3 separate regions of the Homo sapiens genome follow, and regions 1 and 2 are each linked to region 3. Evidence: fine-mapped QTL for protein levels in blood plasma. Region 3 holds a variant in brackets. A gene starts in each other region. All regions are shown on their reverse strands. Region 1 holds the start of LRIG1 (leucine rich repeats and immunoglobulin like domains 1). Region 2 holds the start of TREH (trehalase). Region 3 overlaps RORA (RAR related orphan receptor A).

What was found. A credible set is the group of variants that fine-mapping cannot tell apart. PIP is the chance, under the fine-mapping model, that this variant and not a neighbour inherited with it causes the effect. The UK Biobank Pharma Proteomics Project read protein levels with antibody pairs (Olink). The fine-mapping took linkage between variants from a reference panel, not from the people measured, so its PIPs are less certain.
Region 1: it holds the start of LRIG1, and the variant in region 3 is the best candidate, but not a certain one, in a credible set for the plasma level of the LRIG1 protein (UK Biobank, PIP 0.53).
Region 2: it holds the start of TREH, and the variant in region 3 is the best candidate, but not a certain one, in a credible set for the plasma level of the TREH protein (UK Biobank, PIP 0.75).

The regions. Positions count from the first base shown.
Region 1 is chr3:66,500,502-66,510,854 of GRCh38, reverse strand. It overlaps LRIG1 (leucine rich repeats and immunoglobulin like domains 1), which reads left to right and starts at 9,833. Exons shown (of 19, transcript NM_015541.3): 1 at 9,833-10,353. RefSeq lists silencers at 9,464-10,123, 10,144-10,283, 10,324-10,353 and enhancers at 9,736-10,236, 10,237-10,353.
Region 2 is chr11:118,673,418-118,684,004 of GRCh38, reverse strand. It overlaps TREH (trehalase), which reads left to right and starts at 4,355. Exons shown (of 15, transcript NM_007180.3): 1 at 4,355-4,466. The coding sequence starts at 4,378. RefSeq lists enhancers at 3,804-4,463, 4,464-5,125.
Region 3 is chr15:60,584,501-60,595,087 of GRCh38, reverse strand. The region is part of intron 2 of RORA (RAR related orphan receptor A); the gene reads left to right. All of the region lies in intron 3 of RORA-AS1 (RORA antisense RNA 1), which reads right to left. Among named protein-coding and RNA genes, the nearest start is that of RORA-AS2, 92 kb to the left of the region's middle. RefSeq lists silencers at 2,215-3,264, 3,295-3,414 and an enhancer at 10,000-10,049. The variant G/T (reference allele first, on the strand shown) is at 4,006.

The DNA of each region.
Region 1 (10,353 bases), not on the chromosome of region 3:
TGTTGGCTAGAGGAACTTAGTGGCTGAGGAGTGAAGGAGTGGATATAGCAAGAGGAGTCAGCCCTGAGTTGAGTACTATTCCCCATTTCATAAGTTTTTGACCTTGGCCAGGTTACCTATGCTTTCCAAGCTTCAGTTTTCTTATTTATAAACAGCCGACGGAAATGCCTACTACAGAGGCTTGCTGTAAAGGATAAATGAATGAGTGTTAGAGAAAGGCTGGGATCATAGTTGCAAACTCAAATGCCTGGTGGGGTGGGCAGGCAGGAAATATAAATTAAGACAGCAGATGCCTACCTCCTAAAGGCAGGTCAAATTCAAATTTTTAAAAATAAACACTTCAGGCCAAATTAATCCCCTTGAAGCCCAAGTTTGGCCAGCGTTTTTACCTGGATGATGGCTGAAACATGGTAGATGTTGGTTAATATTAGATTCCCTTTGAGCTAGAAATCTACCTCAATCAGTCCTTCAGTCAACCTAGAGGTTTCATGTCTACTGCATTCATTCCGCATATCTGTCCTGAGCCTTTCTCATGCCAGGTGCTGTGAGAGACCCTGAGGGGTAGAGTGGAGGTCCCTGGCCTCAGGCTCCAGCCCTACTATTAGAAAGAGTCAGATACAAAATGGGCTGACAAAATCTAAAAATAACTGGAAACTGTGAAAGGTGTTATGAATACAAATAAAAGAATGAGGTTTAAAACAAATTTTGAGAAGGAGCTGGGAATCTACTATAATAAAGTATACGAGAGTGCTGGTTTAAAGTGTGAGTTCTGGGCCAGGTGCAGTGGCTTATGCCTGTAATTCCAGCACTTTGGGAGGCTGAGGCTGGAAGATCGCATGAGCTCAGGAGTTCGAGACCAGCCTGGCTAACATGGAGAAACCATGTTGCTACTAAAAATACAAAAACTTAGCTGGGCATGGTGGCACACACCTGTAGTCCAGCTACTCGGGAGGCTGAGATGGGAGGATTGCTTGAGCCTGGGAGGTGGAGTTTGCAGTGGGCTGACATTGCACCACTGCACTCCAACCTGGGATACAGAGCAAGACCCTGTCTCAATAATAATAACAATAATAATAATAAAGTGTGAGCTCTGGAGTCTAATTTCCTAGCTGTGTGATCTTCAGCAGATTACTTCCTTCTGCACCTCAGTGTTCTATTTTATAGAAAGAAAAGATTTTAATAGTTCTGCCTCATAGGGCTGTAGGGAGGATCAAATGAGTTGATGCATTTGAACCACTCAAGTTATTCCCTGGTGCATACTGTAGTAGGTTCTCATATAGCTTAGCTATACGGCATGCAAAAGGTTCTAAGTGTGCATTTAGAAACTAGAATTACAATTAGGGTGGCCAATTTGTCCTGATTTTTCCAGAACTTTCCTATTTTAGCACTTGAAGTCCCATGACCTGGGAAACCCCTGAGTTCCAAACCTGGGTGGTTGGTCACTAGAAGTTTCTGACCTGGCAGATCTGATGATCCGGCAGGCTTCACCCTGACCTACTGCACTCAAAGACACGAAATCCCTTTGTCTTCCAATAGTCTGTGGCTCTGGGGCCTGCTTCCTGTGAGCTGCTTATAGCCTTGACTGGAAAATGAGGTTTGCATACAGAAAACCGTTCATTCATTTGATCATGTATTCGTTCAGTAATATGTATTGAATGCCTGCTATTTGTCAGGCACTGTTCTAGATCCTGGGGACCTAGCAGTCAACAATACCATCAGATTATAAACTCTCTGATGGCAGGGACTTAGCTAACTTGATTTTGTAAGCAGCACTGCTTAACAGTGATGGCTTCTAAGAAATGAGAGCTGGAGAAGAGTGCAAGACAATATATAAGGAGGCAGTAAGCTATGCTTTGCAGAACTTAAAGGTTAGCACACAGCTAAGAGATATAATCCCCACCACTGTCACCCGCTACCAAAGCATACCCCCAAACTCTGTATCTCAGTGTCAGTTTTATGGCTAGGATTCCATTTTAAAATATTCATTTATTTGTCCCATATGAAAAATGGAGTAAACACGTTAAGCCTTATCTGATCTTTTCGGGAAGAATAGATCTTCAATTATTTCATCCTCTCAATCAGTTATTTTACCTGGATGCCATGGGGTTACATAAGAGAACATACCTTTTATAAATAAGCAGATCCTCTGCATTTCTCTCATACCTGTTTCTAAGAGAAGTGGAAGGGAACCTGTTTTGTGGCCTGCTGAAGAACCAGAATATTTATTATCTAAGAAGTTTTGTTCGATGGCATCAGCCAGTTAGCCTGTTGCGTTCAATCAAGGGCCCTGACAAACACGTCAGGAAGGTCAGCTGATAACACTAATTTTTTTGACACTCCTGATGACGGGTTTATTTGATTAGATTTTATTCCTCCCCCAAAATCCACTCACGTTTTATTGCATGCTCACTTAGCCACACTTGTTATCTCAGTTATCTATGGCTGCATAACAAGTCACCCCAAAATTTAGTGGCTTAAAACAAGAGCTTTTTTTATTGGTCATGATTTTGCGGGTCAGGAATTTGGGAAAGACCCTTGGGGATGGCTTAGCCCTGCTCATGTGATGTTGGCGAGGCTCATTTGTGCAGTTGCATTTAGCTGGTCTGTGCTAAAAGGTCCAAAATGAGTTCACTCTCATGTCTGGGGTTATGATGCTGGCTGTTGGCTGGGCCACCCAGTTTTCTTGCACGTTGCCTCTCTCTCTCCATGGTCTCTTCTCCTCCAGGGCCTCTATTTCTAGGAGGGCAGCCTGGACTTCCTTACATGACAGCTCCAGGTAGGAAGTGGGTGAGAGACAAAGCTGCCAGGCCCAGAACTGGTAAGAGCGTCACTCTCACTGCATTCTATCAGTCAGAGCGAGGCACAAGGCCAATCCAGATTTAAGAGGGAGAGAAAATAGACTTTGCCTCTTGAGGGGAGAAACTGCTAGTGGCCGTCGGCAGACAATTATTCTATACAGCTGCCTTCTCCAAATAGTAACCAGTCAAGGCACTTCAAATAAGAAAGAGTTGCGGAAAAGACAAAGACTTTTCTTTGATTTATAGCATCTAAATCCAAGAGGAGTGTCAAGCTCCCCCAGGGAAATAAGGATATTTAAATGATTATCTAAAGAATGTAGCTCATGGATAAGAATGACAGTGAAAAGCATATAATATGTGTCTGTCTGTAGGTTTATAATAAATTTGAAATGTGTCATAAACCCAACTGTCCTTTTGGAAACAAATATAACAGGCTATAAAATTTGCAAATGCTTTTTATTAGTCTGAATGCATGGTGAAGGAAAAGAGAATTGAATGGCACGAGAGGATTTTACCAAAATCTCATGGGCAGCAGATGTTTTGCATGCGCTTCAATTTAGGTGCAATAATGTCAGCCACATGCTTGTCTTTATTTTTGAAATTACTTTTTTTTTTTTTTTTTGAGACAGAATCTCACTTTGTCACCAAGGCTGGAGTGTAATAGTGTGATCTCAGCTCACTGCTACCTCTGCCTCCCTGGTTCAAGCGATTCTCCTGCCTCAGCCTCCCGAGTAGATGGGACTACAGGCGCATGCCACCATGCCCGGCTAATTTTTGTATTTTTAGTACAGACAGGGTTTCACCATGTTGGCCAAGCTGGTCTCGAACTCCTGACCTCAGGTGATCCGCCCACCTTGGCCTCCCAAAATGCTGGGATTACAGGCATGAGCCACTGTGCCCAGCCTTAAGGTTCACATTTCTGAGAAGCTCCAGGTAATATTGATGTGGTCAGCACACATATGTGAATAGCAAGCATGTATAAAATAAAATGGGGGAGGAAAGAGGCTTGATAATTCTCCCTCCTTGCAGGGCAGGCAGGACTCACTCAGCAAATATTGTCTCTGTGCCTACCATGTGCCTGGAATTGTGTTAGACAACAGGAATACCAAGAAGGGATTTAGACTCAGTCTTTTAACTTACTTTTAACTTACTGAGCTACTAGACTGGAGGAAGAGATAAACAGGAAAAATAATCAAAAGTGAGAATGATAAGAGAGGGAGTGTGATTGGGGTAGGTTAGCTGTGAGCCTCTTCCTGCTCAGCACCTAATTAGGGTATAATGTGGGCAAGGGGATTGATTTCAGAGTTTCAGTAACTTCATATGTAAGATGACAATCTCTAAGGTATCTCATAGAATTCTTCAGTGAAATTAAGCCATGATGTGAAATAATGCCTAGCACATAGTAAGTGATCAGTAATGTTAACCACTGTTGTTATACAAGTACTGCTGGGTATGGGGGGAGAGAAAAGTCTAGATATTTATCCTTTAAAATTTTAACTTATTAATCATAGAGGGAACTTTGAAAATCTATTAGTAAATATGAAAAAGTAAAGAAATCACATCCATTCTCATGGCATCCCTGAGAAAGAAGCTCCATGATACACTTCGTAAGACATTCACTGAATATAAAATATGTGTGCTGGTGGTTGTGATGAAACTTGTGATTTAAGATTCTATTTATTCCTGATGCCGCGTGACCTTGGGACAATCACTGAACCTCAGCTTTCTCATCTGTAAAGTGGGAACAATAACAATTTTCATATTCAAAGTTTAGGAGGCTCAAATGTCAAAATAGATCTTTGGGGTTTTTTGTTTCTTTGTTTTTGAGACAGGGTCTTGCTCTGTCACCCAGGCTGGAATGCAGTGGCTCGATCTCGGCTCACCGCAACCTCTGCCTCCTGGGCTCAGGTGATCCTCCTGCCTCAGACTCCTGAGTAGCTGGGACTACAGGCATGCACCACCATGCCCAGCTAATATTTTTCTTTTTAGTAGAGAAGGGATTTCACCATGTTGGTCAGGCTTGTCTCGAACTCCTGACTTCAAGTGATCCACCCATCTTGGCCTTTCAAAGTGCTGGGATTACAGGAATTGAGCCACCGTGCCCAGCCCAAAATAGATCTTTGGTGTCCACAGAACTGGTTTGGAATCTTGGCCCTGTCACTTATTAGCTTGTGTGGCCTTAAACGTTTTTCTTAGCTCCTACCTCACTGAAAAAAGTACATAAAGCACTCAACAACATGAAAGACATATAAAAAGTGCTCCGTAAATGATAGCTGTTGTTATGATGTGACAGTGCTTTGAAAAATGTAAGGTATATGACTTCATAAGATTATTATTATGTTATGATCAATGTGCTGTTCTTTATATACATTGCAGTGTTAGTTCTGAGTGGTTGGCAGTGAGGCATAAACTTTGAATCCTCCCTGCACTCGCCCTCATGTACTTCTCGGAGTGACATTTGCAAAGGCAGCAGATTGGGAGTGAGAGGTGCGGTCTCTGGTGATGATGTAATTAGTCCATCCCATCATCATCACCGTCAGAGGTAAGGGACTGCCTCCTACAATGACCATTACTCCAGAATCTCAATCTCAGAATTATGAAATGCTCATACCTTTGACATATTTTTTTTCATCCTTTCAGTGAACCAGTAAACATTTCACATTCACAAGGCAAGGACAAGTGTCAAGGTTCTAGTTTGTGTTAGAAAGTGGACTCTAAAGGTTTTTGGCCCCTGTCGATGGTGCTCTGTGGAGGAGGGCAGATCCTGTGAAGGGTCACAGCTGAGCTGCAGGCAACAACCATTCTTGCTGTGGAACTGCAGCAGCTGCAGCTTGGCACTGTCTGGGCATTAACCAATATTCCAATAGCCAGAGATTGCACAAGAAAACTACCTCCACCAAAGGCAAATGTTGGAATGGGGGATGGGGAGATCTCAAAATCTTTCTCTTTTTATATTCTATTCCCAGACTCATTAGCCTCCTCTCTTACCTTCTCCACCCATCCATCTCCTTGACAAGATTATTGCGACGAAGGAGTTAATGAGTACACAGTTTTATTTTCCTTGGAAGAGAGATAGAAAACAGGCTCAAAGCAGGGCTGTCATCACCCTGCAAGTCTTCAGGGGTTTCATAGCTAATTATTAACCCTTTGTCACATTCCTGGACAAGAAACTTTCCTGCTGAAACAACCTGCTAAGATTTTCCATCTACATTATACATATGGGCTCTCAGTTTTTCAGAGTTAACAAATCAATAACACCTTGAAAACAATGAGATGTAAACAGTTTATAATGCCCCTTTGGTCCTTTATCAAAATGATCCTTCTTTACTCACTCAGCACCCAGGTCAAGTACCATTATCCTTGTTTTCTATTTTTCTTTTATATATATATTTTTTTTGAGATGGAGTTTTGCTCTTGTCACCCAGGCTGGAGTGCAATGGTGCGATCTCGACTCACTGCAACCTCCGCCTCCCGGGTTCAAGCGATTCTCCTGCCTTAGCCTCCCAAGTAGCTGGGACTATAGGTGTGTGCCACCATACCCGGCTAATTTTTGTATTTTTAGTAGAGATGAGGTTTCACCATGTTGGCCAGGCTGGTCTTGAACTCCTGATCTCAGGTGATCCCCCCACCTCGGCCTCCCAAAGTGCTGGGATCACAGGCGTGAGCCACCGTGCCCAGCCCCTTGTTTTCTATTTGAGAAAACTGAGGCTCCAAGACAGAAAATGACTGGTCAAAGGTTTCACCCATAACAAGGCCTGGCTGGAACCCAGCTCTCCTGAATGGTGACCTGGTGCTTTTTTAATGTATTGAACACAGTGTAAAATCTCACCTAACATTAAGAAAGCCCCTCTGAATCTCAGCATTCTTTAAAACCACTAAAGACCACCACCTAGAACTATAGCAAACTGGCACAAATTCAGTCCCCAGGAAGTTGTGTTAAAAAAAAAAATTCCTATGGTTAACCTTCTTTCTTGTTATTTTGTTATTTGCTTCTCTCCCCAATAGATTTCAGGCTATTTAGATTTTGGGTTCCTCTCTCAAGCATGATTAACTTAGGATGATTAACTGCTAGGGCTTCTGGAGTCAAGAGAGACCTGCAGAGATTCTCACTGGGGTTTGATTCCATGCTATCCCTGGGGTAGATGAAAATGAACTGGAAAATCTAAAATCCCCGGATGACTCATTTAAGGAATAAGCATTTAGAAAGATCAAAGTTGCAGTGTGAGGAAAATAAGGACCTACAGCACCCAAATCAACTGTTGCTCTGTGCTGAATGGACCAAGACTTGCACTTTTATGAGCAGAGACATAGATTCCCTTAGACATTTGCTGTTGTTGTTGTTGAGATCTCCTTCATCTTAGGTGGTGGCTGCAGATGAATTCCCCCCTGAGCTGGATATCACTGCTCTCCAAGTTCACACTCTCATTGCAATCACAAGCAGGTTGCTAGTATGTGGGCAAACTTCCATACATGGTATGGGGAGCAGACATGACTTCATGCTTTGCTGTAGACGAGAGGAACTGCCAAGGCTTAGGCGCCCTGTCCCCCCAAGTGTGCCCCGGCTTTGGAATCCTTTTCTCTGGCTGCATGGTAACCAGACCACAAGGGATGCTTTAGATTTGTGGGCACTCCCTCACCTTGCAGATTCTTAAATTCTATCCTCCAGAAAACTAAGATTCCAAAAAGGCATCTCACAAGTACACCCATACACATTTGAAAAAACATTTTACAAGAATTACCCACTTTTATAGTACTAGAAATGAGACAAACCTGAAAGATAATTTTAGGTCAGCATCTCAAGTAGTTCAATCAGTTCAATTCATTTTTTGCTGCATATGCTGTTTTATTGTGGGGTGGGGACAGGGAGGATCTGACAGTTTCATTTCAGGAAACGGCTGTGGGTATTCTGCATCAAATTACTGTTTTGTGTTCTTTGTGTAAAACTTAAACACTGACTGAGAGGACTTCATAAATTTAGGGTCTTTTTAATTCCATTCCCACTGCTTATTATTATTATATTTACCAAAAGGGATAGAACAAAAGGACATATTTCTTCTCGTCCAGATGGAAGGTGTATGTTTATTTGGATTACATATGAAACATAAAAGCTGGTTAAAGCTCTGGGTGGGATGGGTCAGGTGCAGCATTTTTCTGATAATATTTCTTGGGAATTAGATTTGAATTGATTTACCCACATATTTGAGCACTGCTTTGGGCATCACTGCTGAGATCATGCAAAATTAAACAAGAAAAAAATGAGGCGCAATGAATTCAGAAGGGGAAGAAGGAAAAAGGGGAGGAAGGGATAGGAAGATCACATTTTGGCTAAAGAAAAGAGGTGATCTTATGGCTGAGGGAAAGTTTAACACATTTAGTGCATCTCAATTAAAGCAAACCTCTTAGATTGTGTCGAAAATGGAATAAACCCTTTAATTTTTTTTTTTTTTTTGCCTTTTTTCCCTAAGGTTCAACTTCTCCTCTTTACCTCCCACCCCACCCCACTTCCATAAAACACAACTCAGATTTAATGTTCTGGAGCAAATGTTTTTCAACAGACTTGACCTGCTTAATCTTCCTGACAATGTGCGCAGTTATGTTAGTAATTTGCATACTCTTGGGAAGGGATATGAGACACTAGCAAACCAAAACGCCCAGAGGGCAGCTATATGTTACAGTGGTAATCTTTTTCTTTTTTTCTCAATGTGTGTATGTCTGCTTAATGTTACCACGTACTATCGTAACACACTACTACTATGGTCTGATCTTTAAGAGCAAAAGTTAGAAGCTTTGTTAACTATTATTTCTCCTTTAACTCTGTCTCTTACGAATACACAATGGCTTCTTGAAAATTATCTTAAAAAGACTCTGATTAAAACAAAAACCCAATGACAACAACAAAGCAACCCCTTTATCAAAGGCTGCAGCATTTCTAGAAGTACCCTTCAACTCACTAGCTGGGAAGGAGAGTGCACTTTTTTTTTTTTTTGAGACGGAGTTTCGCTCTGTCACCCAGGCTGGAATTCAGTGACAATTCAGTGACAAGTCTCTGCTCATTGCAGCCTCCGCCTCCGGGGTTCAAGCAGCTCTCCTGTCCCAGCCTCCCGTAGCTGGTATTACAGGTGTGCACCACCACACCTGGCTAATTTTTTTATTTTTCATTTTTAGTACAGACGGGGTTTTACCATGTTGGCCAGGCTGGTCTCGAATTCCTGACCTCAGGTGATCCGCCCGCCTTGGCCTGCCAAACTGCTGGGATTACAGGCGTGAGCCACCACTCCTGGCCGAGGGTGCACCTTTGAGACTAGGTTTCTGCAGCACACATTCATTTTAGTAATCAAGGACATATTGCTGGATTTAGGACGTGAAGAACAAGTCAGGAGCAGATGCTCCAGGCTGCTCGAGGAGGAAGGGGACCACGCCTAATGAAATAACCAAGGATGTCCCAGTCAGGAAGAAATGTGTTAAGTTTTAAACCTGTGTCTTCGCTTTTGGAAGGAACCTGGAAAACGGACGCGGGTTTGCTTCTAATCTGCAGTCCTGCTTGCAGCCTGAGGAGGACGTAAAAAGCCTTGGGGCCAGACAGCCCCAAAACGGGGGCGTTTTACCCTCTTAACTTTCTCTCCCCTTCTTGACGCAGAGGGCGTATCTTCACGCCTCCTTTCCCCAGCCCGCGTTCCCGTTCTCCAACAACAACCTGCGTGTCTCCTTTAAGAGGCGGGGGCCGTCCCTCCCTTTCTCCTCCCAGTCTCCCGCCCTTCACACCTTGGGTGGGAAAAGAGTGTGGGGGCGGGGTAGCCGGTGAAGCGGGAGGGGCGGGATCACAGCGAGCGCTCCAATGGCCCTCGAGGCTGGCCACGGTGGACTCCGGCAGCCAATGAGCAGCAGGCGGGGAGGCGTGGCGGGGCGCTGTTGCAAAGCATCCAACGTGGGCCAGCAGGCGGCCGCGGAGCGCGGAGCCTAGGGGGTGTGTGCGGGCGAGCGGCCGGGGGCGGGGCTTGGGGGACCGGCCGGGGCTGGGCCGCGGGGAGGCGAACAGCAAGCGGCTGATTGTTCGGCTGCGAGGTCGGCGGGACTCTTGCTGCGCGGAGGAGCCGTGCGGAACCCGAGGCTGCGCGCGCGCGCGCGCTCTCTGGCCGCGGCGTGGGGACAGCGAGGCGCACTGGGGCCTCCCAGCGCGGGGCCGGCCGCGCCGTCCAGCCCGAGGTCTACGGCTTTGCGCTCCGAGCCCAGAGGAAGATGCCTGCCGGCACCGAGCTCGGGCTGCGGGGCTGAACGCCTGTCTTCCAGGCGCAGCGGCAGCACTGCCCTCGGCCGGTGTCGGTAGCGGCACTCGGCGTGCCCCGGGCGGACGAAGAGCGCAGGCTGGGTACACCTTGCCCGAATCGGCGGAGTTCGCAGCTAGCGCGGGCGGGCCGGCCGGCCCGGATGGGCGCGGGGTTTGCGGCCCCCGCCGGGTGCTCCGGAGCGGCCCGGGCACCGGGGGCACGCTGAGTGCCGGAGCCGCGGCCGCAGAGAGAACTTGGGGCGGGGGCCATGCCCCGGTGCGGAGTCTAGA
Region 2 (10,587 bases), not on the chromosome of region 3:
TTTGGAGCATTTCAGATTTTGGGTTATCAGATTTGGGGTGCTCAATCTGTAATAGCAACTGTGTATTCAACGATTCTAGTTTATGGATAAGGGAACTGAATGACAGCAATGATAGAAGGGACAGGAGGGAGAAGTTAAGACTACTTTGTTATCATAAGGTACTTGCACTACCATGAAATGTAGTGTTATTTGAGTAGACTTGGTTAGTTGTAAACATATAATACTAAAAAAAGAACTGCTGGAGGCCGGGCGTGGTGGCTCATGCCGGTAATCCCAGAACTTTGGGAGGCTGAGGTGGGTGGATCATGAGGTCAGGAGTTCAAGAACAGCCTGGCCAATATGGTGAAACCCCATCTCTACTAAAAATACAAAAATTAGCCGGGTGTGGTGGTGGGCGCCTGTAGTCCCAGTTACTCAGGAGGCTGAGGCAGGAGAATCACTCGAATCCAGGAGGCGGAGGTTGCAGTGAGCCAAGATCATGCCATTGCACTCCAGCCTGGGTGATAGAGCAAGACTTCGTCTCAAAAAAAAAAAAAAAAAACACTACTGGCTGGGCATGGTGGCTCATACCTGTAATCCTAGCACTTTGAGAGGCCAAGGTGGGAGGATTGCTTGAGCCCAGGAGTTTGAGACCAGCCTGCGCAATATAATGAGGTGTTCCCCCAGAACAAAGCCAGTCTGCATAATGGGCAGAAGATCTGAATCACTATAAACCTTGCTTAAAAGAAGACATACAAGTCGCAAACAGGTATATGAAAAGGTGCGCTACATAACTGATCATCAGAGACATGCAAATCAGAACTACAATGAGATATTATCTCACTACGGTTAAAATGGCTTTTATCCAAAAGACAGGCAATAACAAATGCTGGTGAGGATGTGGAGAAAAGGAACCCTCATATACTGTTGGTGAGAATGTAAGTTAGTACAATCACTGTAGAGTCATGTGTTTTTTTAAAGAACATTGGCTGGGCACGTTGGCTCATGCCTGTAATCCTAGCACTTTGGGAGGCCAAGGCGGGTGGATCACCTGAGGCCAGGAGTTCGAGACCAGCCTGGCTAACACGGTGAAAACCCATCTCTACTAAAAATACAAAAAGTAGCTGGGTGTGGTGGTGGGCGCCTGTAATCCCAGCTATTCACGAGGCTGAGGCAGGAGAATCGCTTAAACCTAGGAGGCAGAGGTTGCAGTGAGCCAAGATCATGCCACTGCACTCCAGCCTGGGCAACACAGCGAGACTCCATCTCAAAAAAAAAAAAAAAGATGTTTAATTTTATGTGTCAACATGGCTAGGCAAAGGTATCCAGATAGTTGGTCAAGCATTATTCTAGATGTTTCTGTGAAGATATTTTTTAGATGAAAATAACATTTAAATTTGTAGACTTTGAGTAAAGCAGGTTACCCTCCCTAACTTGGATGGGCCTTATCCAATCAGTTGAAGACTTTAATTTGAAAAAGACTGACCTCCCCAGAAGAAGAAGGAATTCTCTCAGCATGCTGCCTTCAGACTTGAACTGCAGCTTCTTCCCTGTTTCTCCAGCCTGCCAGCCTACCCTAGAGATTTTGGACTTGCCAGCTACCTCTCAAACTCTCTCTCTCTACCCCCATCCCCCATATATGTATTGTTTCTGCCTAATACGGTCCAGGACCAGATGGCTTCATTGGTAAATTCTACCAAACATTTAAAGAATTAACAATCCTTCTCAAACACTTCCACAAATAGAAGAGGGGCATATTTCCTAACTCATGCTATGAGGCTAACATTACCCTGATATTAAAACCAGATAAAGACATCACAAGAGGGCTGGGCATGGTGGCTCACACTTGGGGAGAAACACTTTGGGAGGCCAAGGCGGGAGGATCACTTGAGGCCAGGAGTTCAAGACCAGCCTGGGCGACACAGTCAGATGTAGTCTCTACAAAAAAATTTAAAAATTACCCAGGCGTGGTGGCATGCACCTGTAGTCCTGGCTACTCAGAAGGTTGAGGCCAGATGACCACTTGAGCCCCAGGAAGTCGAGGTTGTGGTGAGCTGTGTTCATGCCACTGTATTCCAGCCTGCTGGGTGATGGAGCAAGACTATGTGTCCAAAAAAAAAAAAAAACAAAACAAAACAAGGAAAGAAAATTACAGTCAAATATGCTCTATACATATTGATGCAAAATTCCTCAAAAAAATACTCGCAAGCCAAAACCAACAGTTTATTAAAAGGATTAGACATCATGACCAAGTGAGATTTATCCAAAGAATGCAAGGGTGGTTGCACAGCATTGTGAATGTAATAAAAGGAAATTGAATTGTACACTTAAAAATTGTTGACCAGGCATGGTGGCTCACACCTGTAATCCCAATACATTGGGAGGATGAGGCAGGAGGATTGCTTGAGCTCAGGAGTTCCACACCAGCCTGGACAACATAGGGAGACCCAATCTCTAAAAAAAAAAAAATTATTTTTAATTTAAAAATTAGTTGGGCGTGGTGGCATGTGCCTGTGGTCCCAGCTGCTCAGGAGGCTGAGGTGGGAGAATCCCTTAAACCTGAGAGATCAAGGCTGCAGTGAGCTGTGATGGAGCCACTGCATGCCAGCCTGGGCAACAGAGCGAGACCCTGTCTCAAAAAACAAAGCAAACAAAAAAAACAATGCCAGCTGCCCACATTACTGGGTGGAGCTATCTGAACCTTTACTAGTTCAGAGTGGTGCCTGATTCATGAGTCATTTCTTTGCTTGAATAAATGGTTAAATTTAATTTGTCTAAGGTTTTTCTTTTTAATAGCAGTAAACACTGCTCAGGTGCCACAACTGACATCCTTAACTGCAAACCTAAGTCCTTCAGGAGAGGTCATGCCTATCATTAAACTCCATGTGCCTTGCCCACCCCCTGTCCCCTGTCCCTTCAGCTCACCTTCCATATGTTGAGGGGATGAGCCTCCTAAAGTAACCGAATCTGCTTTTTTTTTTTTTTTTTTTTTTTTGAGACAGAGACTTACTCTGTCGCCCAGGCTGGAGTGCAGTGGCATGATCTCGGCTCACTACAACCTCTGTCTCCCGAGTTCAAGCGATTCTCCCACCTCAGCCTCCTGAGGAGCTGGGATTACAGGTACCCGCCATCATGCCCAGCTAATTTTTGTATTTTTGTAGAGACGGGGTTTCACCATGTTGGCCAGGCTGGTCTTGAACTCCTGACCTCAGGTGATCCACCCGCCTCGGCCTCCCAAAGTGGTGGGATTACAGGCATGAGCCACTGCACCCAGCCTGAATCTGCTTCTTAAGCTCACAAACTTCTCTGCTGGTTCCACTTTGGGGAATTACAAGGAATTACATTCCTTGGCTTGGCAAAGACCATTTCCAGACTGGTGCCAACATGTTCCTCCAGTCTATCTCAAAACCCTTCCCTGCATGAACACCAAGTTCTCTGCAGCTAGGCTGAGGGGTTTGCTCTTCTCTTCACATGCTCTGCATACATTGTAGTGGTCTCCAGCCCATTTCCCTTGGCAAACTCCTATGCGGTCATCAAGACTCATTAGGACTGGCGCAGTGGCTCACGCCTGTAATCCCAGCACTTTGGGAGGCCAAGGCGAGCAGATCATGAGGTCAAGAGATTGAGACCATCCTGGCCAACACAGTGAAACCCCGTCTCTACTAAAAATACAAAAATTAGCTGGGCGTGGTGGCGGGCACCTGTAGTCCCAGCTATTCAGGATGCTGAGGCAGGAGAATTGCTTGAACCCGGGAGGCGGAGGTGGCAGTGAGCTGAGATCACGCCACTGCACTCCAGCCTAGCGACAGAGTGAGACTCAGTCTCAAAAAAAAAAAAAAAAAGACTCATTACAAATGACACACTATTGTGGGTCTCCCTTAGTCCTCCCCAGACAGAATGGTTCTACTGTCCTGTGCTTCCGCTGTATCTCTTGCAGATAACAGTGAGAGGCCCTGAATTTCACACCACACCAGGGACAGGATCTTGAGCCATTCCATTTGAAATGTTAAGGGAAATGGTAACTCTCTGAGGTTGGTGGTCTTGGGGCCACCCAAGGAACCTGGCATCCAGGTTACAGGTGTGTGGCCTCGACTGTGTCCCTGGCCTTTGGGTGCCCACTCCCCACCCCCACCACCATGCTCTGAGGGAAGGGCCTGAGCCATTGGCACCAGCTGAGACTGTGAAATAGAAGAGGCAAAGTAGAAGCAAGGGAGGTGGCCACTGTGCCCTGAGAGCAGGAGGGGCAAGCGGGCCACACACAGACCAAGCACACGTCCCCTCAGGTGGCCACGCCTCAAAGGCTGGACTTTGGCCGACTTGGACAGGCAGGTGAGCCAGGCTGTGCCCAGCAAGCCGAAGGTGCCTGGGCTTGCTCATTCAGTCACAGTCACAGCCACCATGCCAGGGAGGACCTGGGAGCTGTGCCTGCTACTGCTGCTGGGGCTGGGACTGGGGTCCCAGGAGGCCCTACCCCCACCCTGTGAGAGGTAGGGGTGTGGGGAAGGCAGCAGGGGAGGATGGCAATAAGAGGGAGGCTGGGATGAGATCTCAAGCTCTGGGGTCGGTACTTCAGAGGGAAAGGAAGAGATTATAAAGGAAGGAAAGAGTAGGGAAGAGAAGAAAATGAGAATTCCTATGTAGCAGGCTCTGTGCTGGGCACTGCACCTGCAGTCCGTTTTTTTTGTTGTTGTTGTTAGAGTCTTGCTCGGTCGTCCAGATGGAGTACAGTGGCACCATCTCCACTCACTGCAGCCTAGACCTCCCGGGTTCGAGAGATTCTCGTGCCTCAGCCTCCTGAGTAGCTGGAATCACAGGCATGCACCACCACGCCCAGCCTGTCATTGATTTTTACCAAAATTTTCCACCGTTGGAAGGGACATTAGGCTTGGCGACTGTGCTGGGAATACAAGCGTGAGCCACCGCCCCCTGTCGGGACCTGCAGTCCTGATACCAGACGCAGCTGCCAGAGCCTGGCCTGAGGTCCAAGAGCCTGCTGGCCAGAGCCCGCCCTCCCTTCCTCTCCTCCTCCAAGCTGCCCCTTGAACTGTGCAGGCCTCTTCTCAGGATTGTTCTAGCAAACTTTCTGCTCCAGCTTCCTAGTCTGGGTGTGAGAGGCAGCCTAAGGGCCTGAAGACAGCACTTGGGCTTGAGCCCTGACCCTCATATTCTCTCTGTGACCCAGGGCAGGTCAAGGCTCTTTCCTGAGCCTGAGTTTCCATCACCAGGGACAGAGATGAGTGACCCTGTCCTGTCTCCTGGACTCAGGCGATGTCCACCCTTCGTTCCACATGGATTTATGGAGCTGTGGCCACATCAGCCACTTTACCAGCTCCTGCAAGAACAATAATAATAGAAGAAAAACAGCTGGGCACGGTGGCTCATGCCTGTAATCCCAGCACTTTGGGAGGCCAAGGTGGGAGCTATCATCTGAGGTCAGGAGTTCGAGACCAGCCTGGCCAACATGGTGAAACCCCATCTCTATGAAAAATACAAAATTAGCCGGGCATGGTGGCGCACGCCTGTAATCCCAGCTACTCGGGAGGCTGAGGCAGGAGAGTCGCTTGAACTTGGGATGTGGAGGTTGCAGTGAGCCAAGATCATGCCATTGCACTCCAGTCGGGGCAACAAGAGCAAAACTCTATCTCAAATAATAATAATAATAATAATAGAAGCAAAACAGTAACAGAAGCACAGTTTGAAGTAGAGAGAAGTTAGGGCCCGCTGGTGTGGGTGAGCAGAGGGTGTGTTAGAGAGGATGGGGAGGGACGGTGTCTCTGAGGAGGTGATGTGTAAGCAGAATTGTGGCAGGAACCATTGCTGAGCTGATCTGGGAGAGGACAGTCCAGGCATGGAAAGGGCCATGCAGAGGCCCTGACGCACTGTTCAGGGATTGGGACGAAGGCCTGTGTGATTGGGGCAGAGTGGGAACAGGTCCGGGGAGAGCGGGGCTCCAGGCAACAAGGTTTGGGCTTGGGTTCCAGTGGTTAGACTAGAGACAGAGACAAGGGGTTCAATAGAGGGTGTGTGTTACAGGGAGAGTTGACAGTGCTTGCCCATGACAATTGTGGAATATAAAGGGGAAAAGTGTACCTGGGATAATTAATAGGTTTTGTCCTGAGCAATTGTAATGAGGACTTCAGAGAGGCTGGGTGGTCCAGTGCTTTGTCAAGCATTAGGCTGTTTGCCAAATGTAGGGGAAGATGACTTTACTGGTGTTCCCTAAGACCAACCTCAGGCCAGTGATTCACTAACACTTCCAAATGGTTATACCATGATTATGGTTTCATTTTTTTTCTTTTTTTGAGACAGAGTCTCGCTCTGTCGCCAGGTTGGAGTGCAGTGGTGCAATCTCGGCTCGCTGCAACCTCCACCTTCTGGGTTCAAGCGATTCTCCTGCCTCAGCCTCCCCAGTAGCTGGGACTACAGGCACCTGCCACCACGCCCAGCTAATTTTTGTATTTTTAGTAGAGACAGAGGTGTTGCCATGTTGGCAAGAATGGTCTCAATCTCTTGTCCTTGTGATCCGCCTGCCTCAGCCTCCCAAAGTGCTGGGATTACAGGCATGAACCACCGTGCCCAGCCTTGATTATGGTTTCTTACAGTGAAAAGATACATGTTAAAGCCATCAAAGGTGAAATATTCTAGGGCCAAGTCCAGGAGAAAATAATCTCAATCTTCCAGTTTTTCCTCTCCCAGTGGATTTATATGGACAGGACTTGATTTTTCCAGCAATAACATGTGACAGCACGCATGAAGTATTGCCAATCACAAAAGCTCACCTGAGTCTTGGTGTCCAGTGTTTTTATTGGAGGTCAGTGATGAAAGCGTGGACTACCTGTGTGGCTGACCTCAGTTACTCACTCTCCAGAGTTCAAACTGATACTGGGCGGCCAAAGGCCCCTGCCACAAATCACATTATTAGCATCAAATATCTGGCATGGCCCAAGGCCCCAGAAAAACAAAGACTTATCAGGCAGCATATTTTGGTAATTTAAATCTCATCTCTCAGGGCTGGTCACAGGCCAGAATTTTCTCTGAAATGTGCAGGGTTTGAACACAGCAGACCTGCTGAGTCAATCCTTTCATGTATAAGCCACTTCTTGTATAATGAGGAATTAGTTTCATTTTTGTCTTGGGTTCCTCCAAAGTAACCTCTAAGCTCCTTGGAATCTCCCAAGTGATAGGAATGTCTGTTATTAATAGTGGTCCCTGATTAGTGTTTTTTTGTTGTTGTTTTTTTCTTTCTTTTTTTTTTTGAGACAGCAATCTAGCTCTGTTGCCCAGGCTGGCAGTGCAGTGGTGAGCATTTTGGCTCAATGCAACCTCTGCCCCCAGGGTTCAAGTGATTCTCCTGCCTCAGCCTCCCAAGTAGCTGGGACTATAGGCACGCACCACCACGCCTGGCTAATTTTTGTATTTTTAGTAGAGACGGGGTTTCACCATGTTGGCCAGCTGGTCTTAAACTCCTGACCTCAAGCAATCCACCCACCTTGGCCTCCCAAAGTGCTGGGATTACAGGCATGAGTCACTGCACCTGGCCTGATTGCTTTTTGAGACAGGGTCTCACTCTGTCACCCAGGCTGGAGTGCAGTGGTGCAGTCATGGCTCACTGCAGCCTCAATCTCTCTGGGCTTAGGTGATCCTCCCACCTTGGCCTCCTGAATAGCTAGGACTAGGTGTGTGCCACCATGCCTGGCTAATTTTTGTATTTTTTGTAGAGATGGGGTTTTGCCATGTTTCCCAGGCTCTTGGTAGCTTTTGTTAATGAGGTGACTTATGGTGGGTCCCTAGACAGCTTCTGCTAACAAGACGACTCCACATGAAGGCAGGCCGTGCCAGAAAGGCCAAGCATGTGTGTAGAGGGTTGGGGTTTTGGTCCACATGATATCAGCCCAACTTCTCAACCTTCAGGGAGGAGAAGGGGCTGGAGATGGAGTTCAATTACATGATCAATGATTCAATCAATCATGCGTATGTCATGAAACCCCAATAAAAACTCTGGACTTCAAAGTCCTGGTAAGTAGGCTGGGCACAGTGGCTCATGCCTGTAATCCCAACACTTTGGGAGGCCGAGGTGGATGGATCACTTGAGGCCAGGCATTTGAGAGCAGCCTGGCCAACATGGTGAAACCCTGTCTCTACCAAAAATGCCAAAAATTAGCAGGGTGTGGTGGTGCATGCCTGTAATCCCAGCTATTGAGGAGGCTAAGACGTGAGAATCATTGACCTGGGAGGTGGAGGTTGCAGTGAGTTGAGATTGCACCACTGCACTCCAGCCTAGGTGACAGAGTGAGACCCTGTCTCAACAAACAAACAAATAAAACAAATAAATACCAAGTCCTGGTTGGTGAACACATTGATGAGCCAGGAGGGGAAACGTCCTGGTTCCATGGGGAAAGGACACAGAAGCTCTACATTCAGGGCCCCCCTAGACCTTGCCCCATGCACCCCTTCATTTGGCTGATCCTGGCTTGTATTCTTATAATAAAACTATAGCCCTAAGCATAACCGTAAGCTTTTCTGAGTCCTGTGAGTTGTTCTAGCAAATTATCAAATCTGAAAGGGTTATGGGAACCCCTACATTTGTAGCCACTTGGTAATAAGTGCAGGTGGCCTGGGGACCCCTGAACTTGTGGCTGGTGTCAGAAGTGAGGCCGTCTCACTCAGGACCGTGCCCTTAACCTGAGTGTGGATTCTGCACTAACTCCCGATGGTTAGTGCCAGGATTAAATTGCAGTATTGCAGTTGGTGTCAGAAAATGTGGATTTACTAGAATGACCCTGACTCACTGAAACATATGGGTTGGGAAAAGAAAAGTTGAAAGGGCAGGGGATGAGAAACCTTTCATTCTCGAGTGGATACAGGGTCACCCATGGTGTGAAGAGCAGTCATGCTGCAATCAGTTACTGGAGGTAAAAGTTACCAATGGAAATTAGAGGTGATTGATCACTAACTTTTGGGGAGTTGACTCATGTGCATAGGGAAATGTATACTAAGAAGAAGAAAAGCAAATATACAATCCCTATAGACTTTTATCTCTAATAGCCAAACTGAAAGTAAAAGATGGGCCATGCTTAGATTCTGGTCAGTGGAATTACAACCTCCAGTCCTGCACTGTGGTACCAAAAACACCTGCTGAAGTCCTGATGGGCACTGCAATGAGATTGAGAGAATATAAAAATGCAGCCAGGTGCAGTGGCTCACGCCTGTAATCCCAGCACTTTGGGAGGCAGAGGTGGGTGGATCATCTGAGATCAGGAGTTCAAGACCAGCCTGACCAACATGGAGAAACCCTGTCTCTACTAAAAATACAAAATTAGCCGGGTGTGGTGGTGCGCACCTGTAATCCCATCTACTCAGGAGGCTGAGGCAGGAGAATCACTTGAACCCAGGAGGTGGAGGTTGCAGTGAGCTGAGATCTCGCCATTGCACTCCAGCTTGGGCAACAAGAGCGAAACTCCATCTCAAAAACAAAACAAAACAAAACAAAAAAGTGGTATGCGCTTGAACAGGTTTTATGTGGAGTGGTTGCATCTCTTCTACCTGAATGTATTACAGGGATGGATATTGTATCTGACCAGGAAATATTTCCACTACCTAGTATTGTAAAACAGAAGGTATGGAAATCCACTCATCAAGCAATATTGATTAGACATTCCAAATGGGAACCAATAAGATTGCCCAAGTCCACAGAGATTGTTAGCCTTCTCTGGAGCATAGACTGGACTTTATAGCAAAAGTCTTAGAGCACCTCCTGGCACGAGTGCTGAGACTTTGGACTAGATAATTTCCATGTGAGAGGTAATTATTAGCTTGCTATCAGACATTATTTGAAATTGCCCCTATGACTGAAGGATGTAAGATAATCTTGAAACCTGAAATACCTATAATATCTTGGGGAAATGCTCACAGAGAGTGGGCAGGGCCCAGAAGAGTTCCATAATGAAATGGAAATGGCTGGATCAGGAACAAGCTCCTGGGGGAATGCAGTTACTCAGTGTATTCAAAAGCAGAGAGACTCTTTTCCCCTAGGACTGACTTTGGACCCACTCAAAGAGTTGTTAGATTCTATTGCCAATTGGACAGTGCCCTATTGACAGCTCTCGATTGACCAACAAAGCTGTTTGGCTTATGGATGGCAGTCCCAAGGTGAATGAACAGCCTATTGTTTGGAAGGTTGTTACTCTGATCAAAGAAGGCAAAAACAAATCAGCTCTGTGGGTTGAATTGCATACTGTTTAGGTTTTTACTAACTCTTGGACAGTGGCCAATGGCCTGGCCATATGGTCAGGCGGAAGGACAATGGGAACCTTGTCTATATGGAAATCACAACAGGAATTTTAGGAGTGCATTAAAGCAGGTTATGTTGATGTCCATCAGAAGGACCCCTTTCCAGGATCAAAAGGAACTGGGGCAACAAGCAGACATCCCTGCGTGCTCACCTGAGGTGGCCACGTGTGTTCATGAAATAAATGGACATTGCAGGGCAGCAGCCATGCAGAGAAGAGCTGAATTTAGACTTAGTCCTGTTTTCCCGCTGAGGCACAAAATGCCAGTAAGTACTTTTCTGTCTGCCAAAAAGAGAAAGACCGCACATGGCTGTGGGAA
Region 3 (10,587 bases):
TGGGGCCTTATAATGTCATAGAAAATGTGCATTTTGAGTGGTTAAAAAAAAAAAACAGCCTATAGTTTTTACTCTCAAAGAGCTTTGTGTTAATATAAAGAACAGTAATATAACCTGGGTTAAAAGCTGAAGACATTTAATAGAGGCATGTATTACAAATAGCATCTAGCTACATTGGAAGGTTAGGACTTCATATCTGAAATTCTGTTGCTCATTAGTTGTAGGAAGTGAATGAAGTACATCTCCAAAGGGCAAGGTCAGTATTACATTATTCTGGAAATGTCTTTGTTGAATAAATGTGTAAATATTTCAGATAAGTACTTGAGATTATATTTCTATTGGGGACATATCTATAGAATGAATGATTCTACTTATAACTGCAGGAGCAGATGTCATGTTACATGTTGTTCCCAATGACTGATTTCATTTGAAATGATCTGGAAATAAATACTGATTACTAGTGATGTCAGATTATTCACCTTGGAGTCAGATGTCTCACAAGGCACGCTAGAGCTAATAGATTTGGTTCTTTTGAAAACATTGTTTTCTAAAGCAGGATACTGTTTTAAAGTAGCATTGTGAATCATCCGAGTTGTATATCTGGGTTCACTTGCATTGAGTAGGGAAGAACATACTTCCGAGGATGCAGTCTCCGATGGTTTTCCATCCTTTAACGATACAAAAGAAAGAAAATTGTACCTGGGACCTGCTTATAGGATAGCTTGGCATTAGTCGTTAGCACAAGGGAAATCAATAACCAAATGTGAATGATGGTGTCAGTGTAACTGAGGGGCGTTGCCTCATTGGGAGATATAGTTGCATCATAGGAACGTGGTGTGATTTAATTTCATAATTGTAAACATTACAGTGGGTATGGCTGATTCATTTGAAACTCTTGTCCACTTTGCTATGGCTGGACAGCTGAGTTAACATGGGTAGGTCTTGGGTTCACATTTTTATAATTTCTTTTCTTTGTAGTTTTTTTTGGGGGAAAAATCTTTAAGAAAAAAAGCTGTATTAGAATGAATTTATCTGAAATCAAACTTTTATAAAGCCATGGCTTGACTGAAGGACAACGAACTTTATTGACCTTCTAAATCAGAGCGCTGTATAAATGTTTGGAAGACTCAATTTTGCCTTGAAAGGGGGCTGGGGAGGGAGTGTATGAATCCTTGTTTTCTACGGTGCTGATTATTTGCTTGTGTTTTAAATTGTGGCCCAACTCAGGGGCAAGAGCAACTCACTTACATGGAGAAAAAAATATGCTAGAATTATCCTTGCTTAATCATCATGAATGCAACAGCTAATAGCCATCTGATATTTTAAGTTGTGCGTGGCAACAGACCAACAGAAAAGCAAGCAGAATGAAATTTCGTGAAGGAACCGCAATAGGTACGCAAACTTGGCTTTTCAGAATTTTTTTCTGTTATGCTCGGTACTATAGACACCCTGACCAAAGTTTTAAACAATGCAGACTCTGGGTATGTAGCATCTGAAATTCATTGTAAAGAGATTGACCTGTAAAATAATAACGTCATGATTTACAGTTCCGTAAGGACAGTAAGAAGAATTAAGCTTCAAAGTTTAGAGGGAATTAAGTCTTAGTCGCATGTTAAAATGTACAAAGTTCACCTTCAGAGGTCTTTATTTTCTGTCAGAATTACCACAGTGTTTCATTTTTAGGGTATGAAAACGATAGCTTTTCCTACTTGTAGATGGGTTCTCTGGAGAGATATGGAAGAGCCTGGGAATTTAGCGGCTCAAATCAGCTGGCAACTGGAGTTCATTTAGGTGATTCACATACAATTTCCGGCTTTCCTTGCAGGTATCAGTGGTCTTGGACGCGGGGAAGGGGGTTGGGGGGGACAGGTGTAGACCAGGACCTTGGTTATTGGTATAACTGCCAATATCCAAGGGTTGCCAAGGGTTGGGTGGGCGGAGTTCCCCCGCCCAGGCCGAGTCTCTCCAGAAAGACTTCGGAGGAGCTTACTCCACTCCCCGGACGGTCCCAGTGGCTTCGTTCTCCACGGCCCAGAAGTGGGCCGTACCTTCCGATTAGAGCTGGGGCACTCTAGGAAATGCGGGTGACCGTAGCTCCCCAGACCAAACCTGTCTTTTCCACCAACGAGCTGGCGCATTTATCGCCCCCGAGTGCTCCGGCAAGCCAGCGGGAGAGTGGCGTCGGGTTGCGAGCCTCTTGCCCCACCGAGTGGGGGCAGAAAGTGGTCAGAGGCGCGTTCCGCGGGGCGCTGCGTGCAGAAAAGCGACCGGCGGCCACAGGTGATCCCGAAGGCGAGGGGAAGGCGGGCGCCCGGGCGAGGGCCCGGGGCGCGGGAGGGCAGGCCCGGCCGGGGTGGGCCAGCAGAGCCGCCGCTGCTACTCACCTGCCCGCGGGGGCGGGGCGGGGCGCGGCGCTGGGGCGCGCCTGCCTCCCGCCTCCCGCCTCCCGCCTCCCGCCCCGGGAGGAAGCGGAGGGGCGCGGTGTAAACAGAGCGGCGGCCGTGATGTCAGCCGGTCACATGGAGCCTCTTATGGCTCGGGATGGCTCTCGGCGGGCGGGCAGCTGCGGCAGCTGCTGCTGTGGCTCGGGCGGCGGCGGCGCGGCGGCGGCAGAGGGGGCTCCGGGGTCGGACCATCCGCTCTCCCTGCGCTCTCCGCACCGCGGCTTAAATGATGTATTTTGTGATCGCAGCGATGAAAGGTGAGCCCGGGCGCCCCGCCGGGGCCGGGTGGGCTGGCGGCTCCGGGGGGCGGGGAGGAGGGCGCGCAGGGGGAGGGGTGGGCGCGCCTGCCCGAACGCACGTACTGCCCGGGGCTCGGCGCGGGGGCCCTGCCAGGGCCTTCTGGGCCACCGCCGCGGCGCCACCTGAGCCCGGCCACGGGATCGGCCTGCCTCCGATTGGGGGGCAAAGGCGCACGGGGTGGATCCCCCTCTGCTGCCCCCTCCGGCTCCTGTCAGTCTCTTGGGTCCGCTTGGCACCGGGCGGGTCTCCCAAAAGAAAGTTTGCCGGGAGTCGCCGCGCTTCGGAAAGGAAGGGGAGGGTCTGCGGAGTTCAGAGGAAGCCGGGGACGCCCGCGGCCGGTCCCCAGGGCCCGCACCCGGGACAGCTCCGGCCTAGGTCGGGGAGGCGCCGCGGCCGGGCAGGGCCGTGCGTGCGCGTTGTCGCGATGTCATCCCCGGGGACTGGTCAGCGCCCCAGGCCTTGCGCCCTGCCCCTGCGTCCCCGAGCGCCTCAGCGGCCGCCGGCCGGGCAAGTGCCGCAGGTCCGCGCTGTGTCCCGCGCTGTGTCCCGCCGCGGCCACTTCCGAAAGCGCGCGGGCCGGAGCGAGACGGGCGCCTCGAGCGTGCCAAGACGCTCTGGGCGGCCCAGGGAGCCGCGGCGCACCCCGCTTGACACTTTGGCTGGTGGATGGAGGTGGGGAGGAACTCGGCAGCCCACGGGATCCGCGGGCAGGGGCGGAGGTTAGACCGTGGTGAGGGCCGACGGGCGCGGGTTAGTCGCGGCCAATCCTGCCGGGCGGCCCGGCCTTCCGCCCTCATCAGGACTCCGTAGCCGGGCCGGGGGCGGGAGGGGAGGGGGATTTGGTTGGAGGGAGGACTGGCTCTAGGTCCTCTCAGGTGAGAAGGAGAGAAACCGTGGCAAGTCAGGGAACTTTCTGATGGGAAAGCTAAAGTTTGGAGGTGTTCAGGAAGTCGCCCGTGCTGCCGGAGAAACCGAGACTCGCTCTTGGGACGGTTGCAAACAGCTCCGGAGAAACTCAGCCCGCAGCACGCCGCCCGCCGCCCGCCGCCCGCTTGTGCGCCCGCAGGTTCCTCGCCGTGGATAATCTGCCCGAGCTGCTTCGCAGGCCCGGCCGCCAGGCTTGGGGATTTAGAGCCCCATCTGTTTGCGGCGGACGCGGCTTCCCTAATGCGCAGCAATTGTGCAGACCCAGACTGTCCTGCGGGTCCTAGCCACCGGTGCGGGTGCCAAGCGCCTGTTAAACGTTTGCTAGTTTGGGGTT[G/T]TGTTGCAATCTGGAATGAAGGACACCAGTTCGGTATCTGCGCTGGGTTTACTTTCGGATCACCGAGCTTTGCCTTTCTTCACTAGAGATTGGGTGGCATCTCTTTTATTAATTATTAACAGGCCGAAACGTACTGGACGTTAAGATGAGCTGCTTGAGATGAAATCTTTCTATATAATGTGCCCACAGCAAATTTTCTCTTTTCCCCTGTGGCTTGAGGGGAATGGGATTTAATCATTTTTAGAATATGTAATTCATATAAGTAAAAGAGAGGAAACCTCCCGTGATCCGCGCTCTTAAGCACTTAAAATTATTTGGGAGGAAAAATTATTAAGATTTCTTATCGACTTCTTATGTTAAAAAATCTATTCTCCCCCACCCCCCCAAAAAACTTTTATGCTAGTCCTGCATTTCATTAGCCCTGTAAGTGTGAAACGTCTTAAATGCCCTCTGCAGTTAAAGCATTTTTTGTCTTTAAATTATAAAATTGATTTTGCTATTTGGAAGATGTCAATGCCAGTCTTTATCCACTTTGTCTAATATACTTTGTGTTGATTGGAGGAAAGGCGAGAGGCTGAGACATTTTAAACTGCTTTCTCCCCTAATGAACAGTAACGACCCACCAAAAAAAAGGAAAGTACGTTTTAATATTTTGATTTAAAGTTGATGTTTCCTAGTACATAGGCTTTTGCTTTTGTAATTCTACAAAGTGAAGTTCCATACTGTCCCTTGCTAATAGAATAATAAGAATCACACACGCTACCCCCACACTTGGAGTGACCTCTGTCTGCCATAAAATAATAGTTTCATAGTATTGTGCTTTGAAAAAAGTGCCTCAGAAGTACTGGCAATGCAATTTTTCTATAAACTCAGCTGCCTGAAAGAGAGAGAGAGAGAGAGAGAGAGATAGAGGAAGAGGGAGAGAGAATGCATCTGAACAATTAGAATATTTCACTCCCAATATCATAATATCCTGAATTTTAATGGGATTATCTTGCTTTGGTGCAAACTTAAGCTGAAAGAGAAAATAGTTTGTGGGGAAGTGAGGAATGCTGTAAATGTTTCCATATCAGATTTAGAGGAAAAAACTGGCTTAGAATCTTATTAAATACTTCCCTATTGCTTCTCAGTTTTAATAGTTAAATTGGTTCCATGTGTAAGACAGTTTGTATAACTAGATTTTTCGTGCAAAACAGAAATACTGTTTACAATATAGCTTTTTGGTATGTGGATGCATGTGGACAAGGGAGGAGAGAACAAGCCACCATAAAAGAAAGATTCTCTTTGTTGGCTGATTTACTGATGTTTTTTAAACATCAGTAAATCAGGCCCTTTGAACTCACCAAAGAAGAAAATCCTTCCTCTGCATTAGTTGTCAAATAAGTTTAGGCTTAGTTTCATGCTCAAATGTAATAAATCTTCATTTGAGTAACTCTAGTCTCATCCTTCAATTTTGCTTTTGTTTAATTAACAACAAAATTCCAATACCATTTGGATTGCTTCTTGGGCAAAGGGAGAGAGCCAGCTATAACATTTATAATCGGGGGAGCACTTGTTCTGCTCATCATAAAAGTGCATTGGCCAGATGTCACGCGGCAGCGGAGTACTGAAAGGAAATGTAAGACGTTCATCAGTTTCAGTAGATGATATACCCCTTTGCTTCATATGAGTGCTCAGCCTGTGTTTGTGCAAATGGAGTTATAAGAGCACAGGGAGGCTTAAAGGGAATTTCTGGCCCGTAGATTCTTCGTCCGGCCTGATTCATGTGCAAATGCAAGACTCCTCACCACTTTGAAAATACTGTATGTGTTGGTAGTATGTCCAACTGTAATAAATACGATTCTGTAGTTTTGAAGAACTTGGCCTTTCTTTCTACGAAATGAAATTAGAATTCGATCTCTGATCTCACTGTAAGGACCCATTGCCTGGTATCCCTTCACTGGGATTTTTGTACCATTTTTGTTACTTGTGATGGGAAGGATTGGGAGAAGGTGATGGCTGGATCTTGAAAAGAGAAAACCCAAATGGTTGCCACTACTGAGCAGAATGCTTATCTGGCAAGAAGGGATCAGTTCTTTTAAAGACAAAGAGGATTTCTGAATCCATTTGTCCATGGGAGGAGGGAGAAGCCTGGACCCTCCATGAAGTAGAGAGTATTTTAAAAGCACCATTTTCATGGGCAGCCTCTTGATTTTATATATTTCAATCACGTTACTTGAGATACAAAGCAGCAGCATGCACAAGTAAACCCTTTTGCCCACGATTTGAATTGAGAACCATATAATTTATTTAATGCTGCCCAGTCATGAAATAATGTAATTTCTAAACAGAAATAGTCATTTAGAAATATACAGTATGTCATCTAAACCTTAGCTCTTTAATATGTAGTAGATACACTTGTAAATATATTAATAATTCTCATTAGTCTCCTTTTTCTCCTATCTTTCCCTCCCACTCAAGTGAGACACAATAAAAGTGGATGAGATCAGCAAGGTGATAATTGCAAAGCACCTACAATAGCACCCAACCACTTTCTTATTTGCTCTGGGGTATCTAGGAAAATAATATTTATAAATGGCCACTTACTGGAGAAAAGTTACTGGATGGATGGATGGATGGATGGATGGATGGATGAATAGATTTGCAGAGGTAGATGTAGGGTTCAGTTTTCTTAAAAATCTCTTAAATTATTATAGGGATCAACAAAACCCCTTATGTGGAACAAATTTCCTAAGAATACTCTGTCATGGAAATGTTTTCTGCATTCATTTTTACTATTTACAGCACTTATTAGTAAGAAATCAAGGCTGCCTTTATGTATTTCATATTTAATAATTTTAAAGCCATAATTAGACACTCAGAGTCAGCAGCTACACCACTTTTATGTTTCTCTACTTAAAAAACAGTTTTTTTGGAGCCATCCACCAGTGACAAGTCAGGTGTGAATTGACATTTGATAGTATCTCAAAGACCACATACAGACCCTCTGAGGAATGATTTACAAGTTCTGTCTCCCCCATCTAGCTATTCTACTGAAGATAACTCCCTTCCATCCCAACCTTTTGATTCATGAACTGAGAGAGTCGTAGTCAGAGCTTTTTCTATCCGTCAGTATTTTGTGTGACATGATAGAACATGATTTTTCTGTTAATTGTCAAGAGATAGGAGGTCTAAATAGATGGATAATAGCATATACTATCCAATGGGCAAAATGCAAGGAAGCAGCTGAAATCTTTTGTTTCTGGATTTTCTTTTTGGAATGAAATTTGTTAGCCCTCATCATATTTTCAGGAGATAATACGATAACTTTAAAAATCTTTGCTCCTGTGGGTATAAAAAATAATGTCAAGATTATTCCCTAGGTTTTCCAGTTATTTCATTTTTTAAAATGTTACTGCTTCTGAAGTTTACTAGGCATTTCATAAACAAATAGGGAGATGATGCTAATCTATATTTATTTTGTGCTTTATGGTTTACAAACACTCTTACATCATTTAATCCTCCATAGAGAGTCACTGATAGTCCCATCAGTGACTGATGAAGAAACTGAGGCTCACAGAGGTTGCGTTATAGCCTAGCTTTTCCATCTGATAACGTGAAACAAGAACTACAACCCTAATTTCTATCTTCATGCCTCCCCTGGAGGAAGCTGTGAAAAACGTCCTGGATATAACTTTGTCTCTAGTTAGTGGAAATTATAACTCTGGCATTTATATGGGAAAAAAATAGATCCAATTATGTAATGCTTTGCTGAGCCTAATATCTTTAAATTACTATTTAATAAAATCAGTTTGGTACAAATGGGGTTATTCTTATTTGCTTATCATTAGCTCTCTTCAACCATGATTTTCATTAAGTCTGCTTGTTTTAAGAGGATATGAGTGAAATATAAGCATTATTTTCCCCAAGAATACAGAATACCATGAAGTACAGCTAACCTGTGTAACCAATCGCCATTATGATAGAATTGAGAGATATATCTATATGTTCCACTTATCCTTAGGCAAAGGGAACATTCACAAATGCATCTTCTAATTTTAATATGACTTTGTGTAGTATAAAGCTTACGAATTCTCGTGCTTGTGAGTGCTGTCGTGTTTGTTTTCATGACAGCTTAGGGGCATGATTGTAGATCTATTCTTGAGAAATCGTTTGTCTTTTAGAAAATCACGTGAAGTCTAAAAGTTTTCAAGTAGATCTGAAAAATCTCATTTCTCACTTAGTGGGGAATGGCCTTAATGACTGCTGGATTAAGGTGTGTTTGTCTGAAAGCAAATAAGGATTATTTCAGTCTCAGACGAAACCTTTAAAGTCACTCAGATGAATGTCTCACTGGGATTTGGACCCTGCCCACAATATTTCTGCCAAGTAGTTATCTGGTTATGCTGGAACACCTCCAACGATGGGGAACTCACTATCTTTAAAGGTAGGTTACTCCATCTTGAATTAGAAAAGTCTTTTTATATCAAGCATAACTCTCTCCTTTGTACTTTTAATCCCTTAATTCTGATCCTTTCCTTTGGGGCTGTGCAGAACACATTTAATCCATCTTTCAAATGAAAGACTGTAAGTCATTTGAAGACTAGTACTGTAACACACACATGCACACGCACACACACACACACACCCCTCTAATACGTAATATCTGCTGTCCCTCTCCAGTCCTTTTTGCTGTAAGTGTGGTTCTGCCTTCCCACAATCTTGGTCAGTTTCTTCCTCAAACACACTTCAGTTTGCCTAGAACCACTTGAAATTTTAATGCCAAAGATGGACCCCAAGTGCCAGTTGTGATATAATTGACTTGGCACTTAACCCAGCACATAGTAAAGAGGCAGCCATGACTTAAAGATGAAAAACTTTTGTTTTAAAATTTTAAAGATAACATCAGCTAGCTGTATCTCTAGCACCTCTCACCACCAGTCTTTGTGATATCATTGTTTGTGAAAGTGGACTTTTGAACTGTTTAGGAATACTTTTAGTTCCATTTGAAGTTGATTATTAAGTATCCAGGAAAATCAAAGATACTACAAAAATAATTAAAGGAACATTAGAAGCATTTCAGGTATTTTTCTGCCGCATGTCAGATATGAGATAAGGCTGCCCTCTAGTGGTTACTTGCACATGGACGGCTAAACCCATAATGGTGCCAGTGAATTTCCCATCAGGCTAGTGGGAAGGTCAAAGGTTGTAGTTATTTTCTTAATTGGAATGAGACATTTCTATTCCAGATTCAAAAGTTTAACTCGTTGTTCTTCATGGTTATCAGAAATGTAACTGTGGAAGGGATACTGAATTTTAAAAGTTTGCTTGGCAGGAAGTAAAGGAAAAAAAATTTTTAACTTAAAGCTGATTTATTTGCTGTTTGGCTCAATATTAAATTTAAGTGAAATTTGGTTTGTGAGTCAACAATTGTTATGACATTTTTAGTAATCCTCGTATTTTTTTAAGTTTCAAACTCCATTCTAATTCCCAACCCTTGAATATCTTTTAAAAAGAGGTCGTCATTTGATGAGCTAAATTCAGCGTTTCCCCTTTTTAAATCTAGAGCTTTTCTTTTTCAAAAATGATAAACATTTAGTAAAAAAGTAAACTACAGTAGCTTTTGGGGGGTAATAAAACAATTTTAAACATGGATGAAAAAAACTATTAACCCCTTGGTTTCTGAAGATTTATGGTTAGATCATTTGGTTCACTTAAGTATATACAGTTTGCCTAAAAAATAAGATAGAGGATATGTCAGAAACTCTGCATGAGGTAGCGACAAGCATTCATTTGCATATTTTTTAGGATAAATAGATAATACAAGTGGATTGTGGATTTGGATTTTGGTGTTATAACAAGTGTGAAACAATGGTAAAACAATCTGATTTCTGTGTCGGAATCTGAGGAATGAATATAGATCTTCCTATTTGCTTAAATGTTATTTGTTCCTGGTGCTACACAGAGGTATAAGAATGCACGTTTATATGAATTTTGCATTGCTGAAGAAGTCAAAGCTGATCTGAGCTAGAATAACCAGGGTAATAATAATGACAAATAATCACCAGGCTTGTAAAGGATAATAGTGCTTACGTGTTCCTATTAGAAAGATGAAATTGCAGCGTTTCATGAAAAAGAAGAAAAAAAATAAAAAGCAAGGAAAAACTGCTGTTTAAACCTTTCTATCATAGAAATAAGGCAGTGGTTCAGAAGTGAAGACTTGTGGTTAAGTTTCAGATCAGTTATTGAAGCCAACCGTTTTACAAACTGCGCCACCCAGAAGTGTGATTTTTTTTCACCACATGAGAAGTATTCTCTTTTTCACAGAATGTTATTTTCATTTTTCGGTTGTTGGAAAGGTTTTTTTTCTCCTTCTTTTTATTTGTTCATCTCACTTCAAATCTTCTGTAGAACAGTGGGTGAAAATAAGTAAATAAATTTGTTTCAGCAAATACTTAAGTGCCTATTGTGTGCTAGGTAATTCAGGTACCACCTTTGTGCTTTTATAATAGGAGCTGAGACACCTTCCTCCCAATCAAGTGTCTTAAGCCATGAATCAGCATTTAAAAAATGCACTGAGAAGTTGGCAGCCACACTTAGTCA